Linked DNA regions of Homo sapiens. The protein of the gene in region 2 interacts with the protein of the main gene of each other region in a pairwise test. Each region holds a gene or a part of one and is shown on either strand. Other genes may lie near its edges.

Region 1 (3,653 bases), on a different chromosome or scaffold from region 2:
TTTAATAGTTTTTTATGCTAAAGTCTCTGAACAAAACTCATCAATTCAAGGTACTTAAACTACAAACTATTTTCTATTTTTTTCACACCTGCAACAGTAACAAAAAAAAGATGCGTTTCCTGGTCAATAACCTGGAACTTATTCTATCGAGAAAAAAAAAAATGAAAGAAACTATGGAACTTTTTATATTACTAGTGTTCTGCTCGATAGTTTTAAAACATTATTTTTTAATTGACAAATATCTACTTTACTTTTTTTTTTTTTTTTGACACGGAGTCTTGCTGTGTCGCCCAGGCTGGAGTGCAGTGGCGTAATCTTGGCTCACTGCAACCTCCGTCTCCCAGGTTCAAGTGATTCTCCTGCTTCAGCCTCCTTAATGGCTGGGATTACAGGTGTCTGCCACCACGCCCAGCTAATTTTTGTGTTTTTAGTAGAGATGGGGTTTCACCACGTTGGCCAGGCTGGTCTCGAACTCCAGACCTCAGGTGATCAGCCCATCTCGGCCTCCCAAAGTGCTGCGATTACAGGAGTGAGTTACCACGCCCGGCTTACATTTCAATCATGTTATGTTAGGTCATTTCAACATGTGGTTTAAGAACAAGATTTGATCAATAATATAACAATCTGGATTAAAAGAACTCTTCACAGAAAATTCTAATGATAGTCAACATTTGATAATTTGCCCAAATATAATGAAGTTATTAATGTCTTCAGTTTTAACAGAAGTATTTAACAAAAATACTCACCCTCCTGTGCCAATGGATCTCTTTTGATGGTTTTTCGAATCATAATAGCGCTGTAGGATCATAGCACTTCTGCTTTTCAAATATCCAGTCTCCACCTCAATATAGTTCTCCAAATAGGAAATGAAAATGGATTTGATAAGCTTAGACAAGAAAGTCTGTTTATCAGTACCTAAATTAAACTCCATCAGCTTGCTGGAAAGATTGGTGGTTCTTTTCATGAAAAAGGGGGAGAAAAAGATTAATATACATTTTAGGTATAGTAACAATATTAAGGAATACAAATTTTTACAACGTGACTTTCATGACTTATGTTAAGCCACCATTTCTTAAACTCTGGGAGAGTACTTATGATGCAGAGATCAACTCTACAGGGTTACATATAAATACAGTGAAATATTACGAACAACTTTACGGTTTTGAGAACTGTTATAAATTCCTAGGAAAAGAACTTGTGAGGCAATTAACTAGTCCAGAAATGGCGACAGTGGCAGATTGGCCTCAAGTATGTCTAATGCCATTCATCACATGGGACCCAAAACAGAGTACTGAAAGATCTACTGTCTGTTCACCCTCTTTTGTTTTGTCCTTGTGGACTTTCCCTCTAATTTTCTATTTCCCATTGCTGAAGATAGGGTCATAACAGTGTTGTTGTTGAGATGGACTTCCTCATTACGGTAACTTTGGAAAAACCTTCTCCCAAAATGAAGACACTGAAGAAGAGTAATAGGGTTGGGAAAAGTCAAGGAAAAAAAAAACCCCACAAGACTCCATATGAAGCTTCTGAGACAATCTCTAAGAGTAACACTGACATTTACAAAAGCACAAGACAAATTCCTACAGAAGATTTAGAGCTGAAATTGTCATTTGTTAAGATTACATCACTTCCTTTTGCAGTTTCTAAAGTTTTGACTGCAGATAAATGTAATTACACTAATGCTTAGAGAAAAAATAAAGCATAACATCCAATTCCTGACGTTAATGTATTAAGAATGTTGTACAATACAGTCTTGTACAATATAACTAGTCTATACAGCTAAGCATTTAATGCTAAAAGGTAAACTGGTGACAAACTTATTCAAAAATACCTGAATACTTCCTTGTTTTTATCAAAAAAATTTAAAAAATCTGTTATCTATTATTTTCTAATCATTAAAAATTTACCTTGTATACAGATCATAGAGATTTTTGAGATATTGCTCTGCATCGGACTTCCTACATTCTTCTAACTGCTCTTTCACAAAACTCTAAAAGAAAAAGGTTAACATTCTGTTAATTAGGTAAATATTAAATTCTACAACTTCTCAAGATATTTTTCTTTTAAAATTCACTCCACAGTTTTGAACCTTTCTGACTTACAATCCAATCAAAAAGGCAATTACAGAAAACAAACCAATCATAAAATATTTTAAAACAGGTTTTTACATTTTACCACTTCTCATATTTACCTGTAGAGGATCTTTATCAGTCTTAGGAATAATACCTTTTCTGTTAAATTGGCCTATTCTGCTCTGTGAGGTGCATCAAAAAAACAAAACTGAGAGTACAAACAATAGAGTCAATTCCTTAAGGCAGCATCTCCCAAACTGAGTTCCAGGTAACACTAGTGTTCCTTCAGATGTCTATAGGCATTACTCCAAAACAGGGTTTCTTAGACAGTAAATGTGTGAAATGCTGTACATTACATCCCCACTTCTAGAGAATGACAATACTATCAAAATTCCTGAATTGTGTTAAAAAAAAAAAAAAGCAAACATTTATTGAATGTTGTTTAATCCAGTTGTAAACAGCTTAGGAAATGTTATCTGAAAGTACAGTGATATGGGGGTAAATTAAATTTCTGTGTTTTCCCTTTTCAGGTTAGTACCATATTATTAAAAATTCTACAGACTGCTCTTGTAATTCTTGTTCAGTTTCACAAATGACATCTATTGGTGAAGGCAGGGACCAAAAAAAAAGAAAAATCTTCAAGGCTATCTTACCACAATATATTATACTACTACTACGAATACTACACAAATTTCAAGCATGTTCTCTGATGATACTTATTGATTAGCACTTTCTTCTTGGTGAATACAAAACATTTTTTAAAAAGCATGAGGATTCCTTTCTCCTTAACTAGATTACTATTTCTAAGGTCATTACATAAGTAAACTAAATTTTAAAAATACTTTTAAAATATAGGGAAAAAATTACATATTGCTTTAAGAACTATTTAATTTGTTACTATTTAAAATTACCTGTAGTTTGATTTCAAATACATTTTGAATAAGTTTAGCCAGGACTGTTTCTGGATTACTGAAGATATCTCCAACTTGTTTGTTCACTCTTTGACAGAGTATTCCAGCGTCTTCAAATATATCATTTCTCAAATAAGCACCCTAAACAGCAGAGACATTTTATACAGTGAACATATAATTTCTACATGATTTTAAAACAACAATTAGCATAAAATAATATCCAACAAAGTGTACTGTTATGTTACCTCCTGGCACTGCTTTATATAAACATCAACACAATGGGAATAACCCTACAAGGAAGAAACACATTGTTATTATTCTGATTCAATTATAATAATTATTATTTCAAAAAAAGAAGTGTTATATGTCATAAAGCTATGACTATTTACCAGTAAATGGCCAATAGCAACACCTGTTGGACTTAAATAAAATTAACTGCAGAAAACCAGTAACTTGATAAAGGTATCGTCTCCCTAGTCACTTTCTATGATAAAATTTATCAGTTGGTACATATCCTTGTTGAACTTTAGACTAAAACAAGAAAGATGAAGTATGTAACTGAGTTCTTTAGAGTAATTTTTGTCCTATGATCATCTAGCCATCTCCTTCAACTCCAAAACACACCCACTCACACCCACCCACACACATACACACAAACACACACATACAC
Region 2 (3,653 bases):
GCCTTGCACTGTGGGGCTCCAGGGGTTCCTTTCAGGCCCAGGAACCAAGGGGAGAATTGAGATCTCAGAGCTGTTTGGAGTGGGGTGAGTAGGCCTCCAGGGAGAACTGAGGCATTGGTGTGGCTAGTAATGTGGGCCAGCCCTACAGTCTCATGCCAGCACAGGGCTCAGAGATCAGGCGCACTCACCCTCAGCAATGGCGCCCAGCACCAGGATGCCCGACTCCTTGACCACCCACTCGGGGTGGAAGAGGAGGCCTTTGAGTAGTGGGAGTAGGTGGGGCAGCAGTTCCTCCCGGAAGACATTGGCGAGGACGTCCAGTGCAGCCGCTGAGCACTTCCCTGGGGAAGGGGGAACAATGGGGAGGCTCAGGGCGGCCCCTCAGGCAGGTGGCCGACCCTCCTTGACTGCACTCCCAGGATCAGAGATCATGCTCAGAATCTTCACGATCAGCTTCTTTTTTTTTGTTTTGTTTTTTTGAGACGGAGTCTCACTTTTTCCGCCCAGGCCGGAGTGCAGTGGCGCTATCTCGGCTCACTGCAAGCTCCGCCTCCTGGGTTCATGCCGTTTTCCTGCCTCAGCCTCCCGAGTAGCTGGGACTACAGGCGCCCGACACCACGCCCGACTAATTTTTTGTATTTTTAGTAGAGACGGGGTTTCACTGTGTTAGCCAGGATGGTGTTGATCTCCTGACCTCGTGATCCGCCCGCCTCAGCCTTCCAAAGTGCTGGGATTACAGGCGTAAGCCACTGCGCCCGGCCACGATCAGCTTCTAATCAGCTTCTGCCTCAGCTTCTAGTCACCTCCCAAGAGGGAGTCCAGGGCTTGCCACCCCACCACCACCCCCAGGCAGGGGCACACACTCAAATTCCAGTCGGACAGAGCATCATCATCATCGTCATCCTCCGCGTCCTCGGAGCCATCAGGCCGCTCAGCCTCGTGGGGCAGTGTGACCGTGCGTGACTTGTGGAAGCGTGGCTTGATGTCCTGCTCACTGTCGGGGACAGCCTCATCCTCCTCCACATCCCCCTGGGGGACAGGCAGACTGTTAAGTACTTTGGGGACCACAGCCGCGACACCCACGCCCATGCCCACCCATGCTGGGTGGGCCCTGCCTGACCTTGAGCAGGATGATGTCAATTTCCGAGTACTTCATCCCATTCACCAAGATGGGGATCAACCTGCACAGAGAGGGACTGTTTATGGGGATGCAGGGGCCGTGGCAAAAGTTGGGGGGAGGCACAGCTTGGGGAGGAGGCAAACAGGTGCCAACAGAGTGACCAGCCCCCCAATCAGCCACAGAGCAGACCCTGCAGAGCATGATGGTACTGCTAGGTGCAAATTGATCCATTTCCCTCTGGGGAATTATCGGAATCTAGTCTCTGCCGCTATGATTAGGATATAAATGATACCACTCCTGCCTCCAGAGAAAGGTTTTTTTTTTTTTTTCTTAAGAAGCAGGGTCTAACCCTGTGGGCGGCAAGCCACCCAGGCACCGAGGCAAGAGACAGAGGACACGAGCTGTTCCAGTATAATAAAATATAAAACAAGAATAGTTATACCAGATATAGATCTTAGATATGATTATATATGAATATCATTAATCATTAGTTTGTAGCAATTACTTTTTATTCCAATATTATGATAATCCTCGCTCTATAATCATAGCCTAGGAAAAACCAGGCCATACAGAGATAGGAGCTGAGGGGACATAGTGAGGTGTGACCAGAAGACAAGAGTGCGAGCCTTCTGTTATGCCCGGACAGGGCCACCAGAGGGCTCCTTGGTCTAGCGGTGACGCCAGCATCTGGGAAGACGCCCGTTACCAGGCGGATCATGGTCCAGCGGTAGCAAAAGGTGTCAAGGAACAACACCCGCTACTTAGCAGACCAGGAAAGTGGGGGAGTCTCCCTTTCCCCGGGGGAGTTTAGAGAAGACTCTGCTCCTCCACCTCTTGTGGAGGGCCTGACATCAGTCAGGTTTGCCCGCAGTTATCCGGAGGCCTAACCGTCTCCCTGAGATGCTGTGCTTCAGTGGTCACACTCCTAGTCTGCCTTCATGTTCCATCCTGTACACCTGGCTCTGCCTTCCAGATAGCAGTAGTAAATTAGTGAAAATACTAATAGTCCCTGATATGCAGAAATAATGGCATACGCTGTCTTTCTCTTTGTCTACTCTCCCTCTCTGCCTCGGCTGCCAGGCAGGGAAGGGCCCCCTGTCCAGTGGACACGTGACCCATGTGACCTTACCTATCATTGGAGGTGACTCACATTCTTTACCCTGCCCCTTCTGCCTTGTATGCAATAAATAACAGCGCAGCCAGACATTTGGGGTCACTACCGGTCTCCGCGCATTGGTGGTAGTGGTCCCCCGGGCCCAGCTGCCTTTTCTATTATCTCTTTGTCTTGTGTCTTTATTTCTACACTCTCTCATCGCCGCACACAGGAAGAGACCCACCGACCCTGTGGGGCTGGTCCCTACGTAACCCTATCACCCAGGCTGGAGTGCACTGGTGCGATCACAGCTCACCACAGCCTCATGCTCCTGGGCTCATGCAATCCTCCTGCCTCAGCCTCCCAAAGTGCTAGGATTATAGGCGTGAGCCATGGCACTCAGCCTGCAGGAAAGCTCTTGACCCAGGCCTGGCCACTCAGTGGATTATAGACCCCTGAATACACTGAAAATCTTGGTACAGTGCCTGGTCCCTAGCACAACATTAAGGCAGGGACATGCGGTCCTATTCCTGGCCACTTTCCTGAGATAGGGCAGAGACTAGCCAGAGTAGGGGAGCAAACAGACTAGGCAGCCAGCCCCTCAGCTGCAGCCCAGAGTTGTAAGTGACAGAGCCTTCATCACCTGCTCATCTAGGTCTCATCACTCCCCAGGAGCCGTCTGCCCAGCCCTAGACTGTTATCAATAATTTGGGGCCGGGCACAGGGGCTCACACCTGTCATTATAGCACTTTGGGAGACCAATGCAGGAGGATTGCCTGAGCCCATAAGTTTGAGACCAATTGGGACAATATAGTGAGACCTCACCTCTAATGAATGATAAATAAATAAATAAATAAATAAATAAATAAATAAACATACAATATGCTGGGCGTGGTGACTCACGCCTGTAATCCTAGCACTTTGGGAGGCCAAAGTGGGCAGAACACAAGGTCAGGAAGCTGAGGCAAGAGAATCGCTTGAACCCGAGGGGCGGAGGTTGCAGTGAGCCGAGATTGTGCCACTGCCCTCCAGCCTGGGCAGCAGAGTGAGACTCCGTCTCAAAAACAGAAATTTCAAAATAATAATAATAATGATCTGGGGGCTGGGTACAGTGGCTCGCACCTGTAATCTCAACACTTTAGGAGACCAAGACAGGAGGACTGCTTGAGGCCAGGGATCCGAGACCAGCCAGAGCAACTTAGCAAGACCTCATCTCTACTAAAACTTAGAAAAGATTAGCTAGGTGTGGTGGGATGTGCCTGTAATCCCAGCTACTTGGGAGGCTGAGGTAGGAGGATTGCTTCAGCTGGGAGGTCAAGGCTGCAGTGAGCCATGATTTTGACACTCCACTCCAGCGTGGATGACAGAGCAAAACCTTGTCTCAAAATAAAAAAGAAAAAAATGATTTGGAGAGAGGCAAGCAATCCAAGTTTGTCAAGG
Region 3 (3,653 bases), on a different chromosome or scaffold from region 2:
AGAAAGTAGAGGGCTCAACCCTTTATTATATTTATTTGACTTCCTAGAAATAATTTTAAATATAATTAGTGACAAGGAATAAAGTTCACATCTGTAACAATTGAAAATGGAATGTACAAACAAGACCGGACAGACAGACAATGCTACTGGCAGTACGATCGGCAACCAACGCACACACACTGAATGAAGCTCAGCTCCTAATGAGAGTCAGGAACTCTTCCCGAGTCTTTGGATCCTCCCGGAACACACCCAACATTGTGCTGGTCACAGTTTTGCTGTTCATTTTCTGTACACCTCGCATTACCATACACATGTGTCTACAAAATAAGGCAACACAGGTTGTTTAAAGGAGTAGACAGCTGCTGGTTTGGTTTTTAAAAGCAGGCCTAAAGATTAAATCTCAGCTCACAGTTACCAAGTATATCGAAATATCCCTTCTTACACAAATGTTATCTATTAGGTTCATGCAAAAGTAACTGCGGTTCTTGCTATTGAACATAATGGCAAAAACTGCAATTATCTTTGCAGCAACCTAAACTTTTTGTTCTTGAAGTTGTCTTGCAACTTTTATTTTTATCAGTAGTTGATCCTTAAAGCATCCAAAAAGGGGAAAAATGGAATTTTCTTCTGGGGTGAAAGTAATATAAAAGGTCTACAGAGTTACTTAACTTCTAGATCAAAAGAAAGTCAGAATTCTCACTTGCTCTGCCTTCAGGACCAAGACAGCACTATGCTAGCCTAGGTGTTCAGATAAATGCTCAAGTATACTGATGTCACCAGGCAGAATTCAGATAATGGTGACCAGAGATCCTGTCTGAGCAACCTGGTGACATTAGATACCAGACATAGAACAGAGTTCACACCACGTCACAGAACACATATGAACTTTGTCCACACAACAGCTGCAATTCTCTTAACTCATCCTAACTTAAAGAAATGTACCAATTCTTGGCTTTATTTTTTAAATGTGTGACAAAATATTAGAAAAACTCGGCTTGGAGCAACAGAGAGCTAAAGAAGAAATCAAGAGAAGACATAAAATCAAGAGAAGACATAAAAATGGCTATTGGCGTGGTGGCTCACGCCAGTAATCTCAGTATTTTGGGAGGCTGAGGTGGGCAGATCACTTGAGGTCAGGAGTTTGAGATCCCCAGCCTGGCCAACATGGTGAAATCCCATCTCTACTAAATACGAAAATTAGCTGGGTGTGGTGGCGGGCACCTGTAATCCCAGCTATTTGGGAGGCTGAGGCAGGAGAATCGCTTGAACCTGGGAGGCAGAGGTTGCAGTGAGCCAAGATCACACCATTGCACTCCAGCCTGGGTGAGAGAGCAAGACCCTGTCTTGAGCATTTTTAAAAAATGGCGATTGAGCTGGGCGCAGGGGCTCACGCCTGTAATCCTAGCACTTTGGGAGGCCGTGACGGGTGGATCATGAGGTCAGGAGTTCGAGACCAGCCTGGCCGACATGATGAAACCCCATCTCTATTAAATATACAAAAATTAGCCGGGCATGGTGACACACACCTGTGGTCCCAGCTACTCGGGAGGCTGAGGCAGGAGAATCGCTTGAACCCGGGAGGTGGAGGTTGCAGTGAGCCGAGATTGCACCACTGCACTCCAGCCTGGGCGACAGAGTGAGGCTCCATCTCAAAAAAAAAAAAGGCTATTGATTATGCAAATCTCTACACCTGTGCTTTTAACTCCCTATGCCTCCACAAGCCCCATCCTACCCTCAAAAAATACTTCTCCCATATTCTGTTCCTATATCAGTAACAGTAAATGAAAGTGGTAAAAGAGCTTTAGGCTCAGGGATGGAAATCTACAGTTATCATATCAGTTGTGTGGCATCACCTGGTGCTACAAAATATGAGAAGCACTAAATAGCAAGATCACTTCTAGTGCACCATTATGACGTTACTAAAGGCAGATGCAGACTTACGTTGCTTCAACCACTACCCCGACTCCAGCAGGCCGCAAGGCTTCCGTGATTGCTACAGCAATTTGTTTTGTAAGGCGCTCCTGAACTGTGGATGTGATAAGGAGCTCAGTTTGAGAGTCTGACACAAACAGCTGGAAGCTTTTTCTGTCTCTAGAACATTTGAAATCTTAAAAATCAGACTTCTGTGAGATTTAAGAGCCAAGACACACCAGCTTTTACCAGACTGCTTTGTCTGCTGACTGGGCCACAGAGAGGCCCGGATTCAACTCCCTCACCTGAAGTACAGGGCTAAAGAGATCTCAGAACACCCTGAAGCCCTCCAGCATCACTGCGGGAAGGAATTAGAATAGCAATTATCTCATACCTGTGCAGTTAGAACAACACAGTACTGGTTACCAAGCACCTCCATGGAGGTAAAGTAGTGCAGCAAATAAATAGCCTGCAACAGGGTTAACAAAGGGGCTGCAGTCCAATTATTGAATTGTGCTTAGAGCAATGTTGAAAACCAACAATTTAACCTAAATAATATAGTTCCTGTCCTGAATAAAATGACTTGTCTTTTAATTCATACAGGAATATTCATTGCAGCACTGCATCTATTTGAAAACTGATGAAACCCCCCAGTATCTATCAGAGCTGGTATAGGTTACGCCAAGCCATGGCATATACGGTAGGATTCTAGACAGCCACCAGAATGAATGAGATAGTTACATGGATGTGGCAAAAATGTTTAAGATTTGTTAAATGAAAAAAAGCAGGGAAAAAAGCAAGGCTGATTATGTATAAAATGAGCCCATTTTTGTTTAAACATAATCCAAATAAATTGATTTGAAAATGCAGGTATATGCATGAAAATGTGAAGGAATGTGCAAATACAACAGTGATTTCTTCTGGAAGCTTGAAACAGTAGACTTTTTATAGTCCTAAGAGGTTTTACATTTTTATAAGTCATACTTATCGCACTAGTAATAAAACAAAAAATACTTTTTGTGTAGGAAAAATGTTTTCTGTAGCCAGGCACAGTGGCTCATGCCTGTAATCCCAGCACTTTGGGAGGCCAAGGTGGGCAGATCACCTGAGGTCGGAAGTTCGAGACCAGCCTGATCAATATGGTGAAACCCCGTCTCTACTAGAAATACAAAAATTAGCCAAGGCATGGTGATGCACTCTTATAATCTCAGCTACTTGGAAGGCTGAGGCTGCAGTGAGCCGAGATTGCACCACTGCACTCCAGCCTGGGTGACAGAGCAAGACTCTGTCTCAAAAATAAAAATTTAAAAAAAGAAAAAAAAGAAAAATGTTTTCTGTTAATACAGATTTTTAAAGCTTACCTTGTAGTCTTCTACTATAGATTTCTACAATCCTAGAAAAGAAAGAATTGTTTTAGTTAATCACAAATCATTTGAAGTAAAATTGATAAGCCTTCCTCATAAAACAAAAAGGACATTGTTGAAGCAAGTGGGCTGCAAGAGGAAATAAAGCTTATGGCAAGATGACAGAAAGATACAAGTACCACAGGGAGATGTAGTCTAAAGTCAACTTGATTGGATTGAAGGATGCAAAGTATTGTTCCTGGGTATGCCTGTGAGGGTGTTGCCAAAGGAGATTAACATTTGAGTCAGTGGGCTGGGAAAGGCAGACCCACACTTAATCTGGGTGGGCACAATCTCATCAGCTGCCAGCGAATACAAAGCAGGCAGAAATATATGAAA

Evidence for each region.
Region 1: the proteins of TNPO2 (region 2) and EXOC5 interact in binary tests that used the Homo sapiens proteins (3 or more experiments, as listed by UniProt).
Region 3: the proteins of TNPO2 (region 2) and GCH1 interact in binary tests that used the Homo sapiens proteins (3 or more experiments, as listed by UniProt).

The regions. Positions count from the first base shown.
Region 1 is NC_000014.9:57,230,760-57,234,412, forward strand, and holds part of EXOC5 (exocyst complex component 5), read right to left. Parts: intron 3,274-3,653; coding exon 3,229-3,273; intron 3,125-3,228; coding exon 2,984-3,124; intron 1,991-2,983; coding exon 1,908-1,990; intron 957-1,907; coding exon 747-956; intron 1-746. UniProt on the Homo sapiens protein: Component of the exocyst complex involved in the docking of exocytic vesicles with fusion sites on the plasma membrane.
Region 2 is NC_000019.10:12,710,433-12,714,085, forward strand, and holds part of TNPO2 (transportin-2), read right to left. Parts: intron 1,182-3,653; coding exon 1,121-1,181; intron 1,030-1,120; coding exon 864-1,029; intron 342-863; coding exon 189-341; intron 1-188. UniProt on the Homo sapiens protein: Probably functions in nuclear protein import as nuclear transport receptor. Serves as receptor for nuclear localization signals (NLS) in cargo substrates.
Region 3 is NC_000014.9:54,843,827-54,847,479, forward strand, and holds part of GCH1 (GTP cyclohydrolase 1), read right to left. Parts: intron 3,305-3,653; coding exon 3,273-3,304; intron 2,027-3,272; coding exon 1,942-2,026; intron 318-1,941; coding exon 191-317; 3' UTR 44-190; coding exon of another isoform or gene 1-43. UniProt on the Homo sapiens protein: Positively regulates nitric oxide synthesis in umbilical vein endothelial cells (HUVECs). May be involved in dopamine synthesis. May modify pain sensitivity and persistence.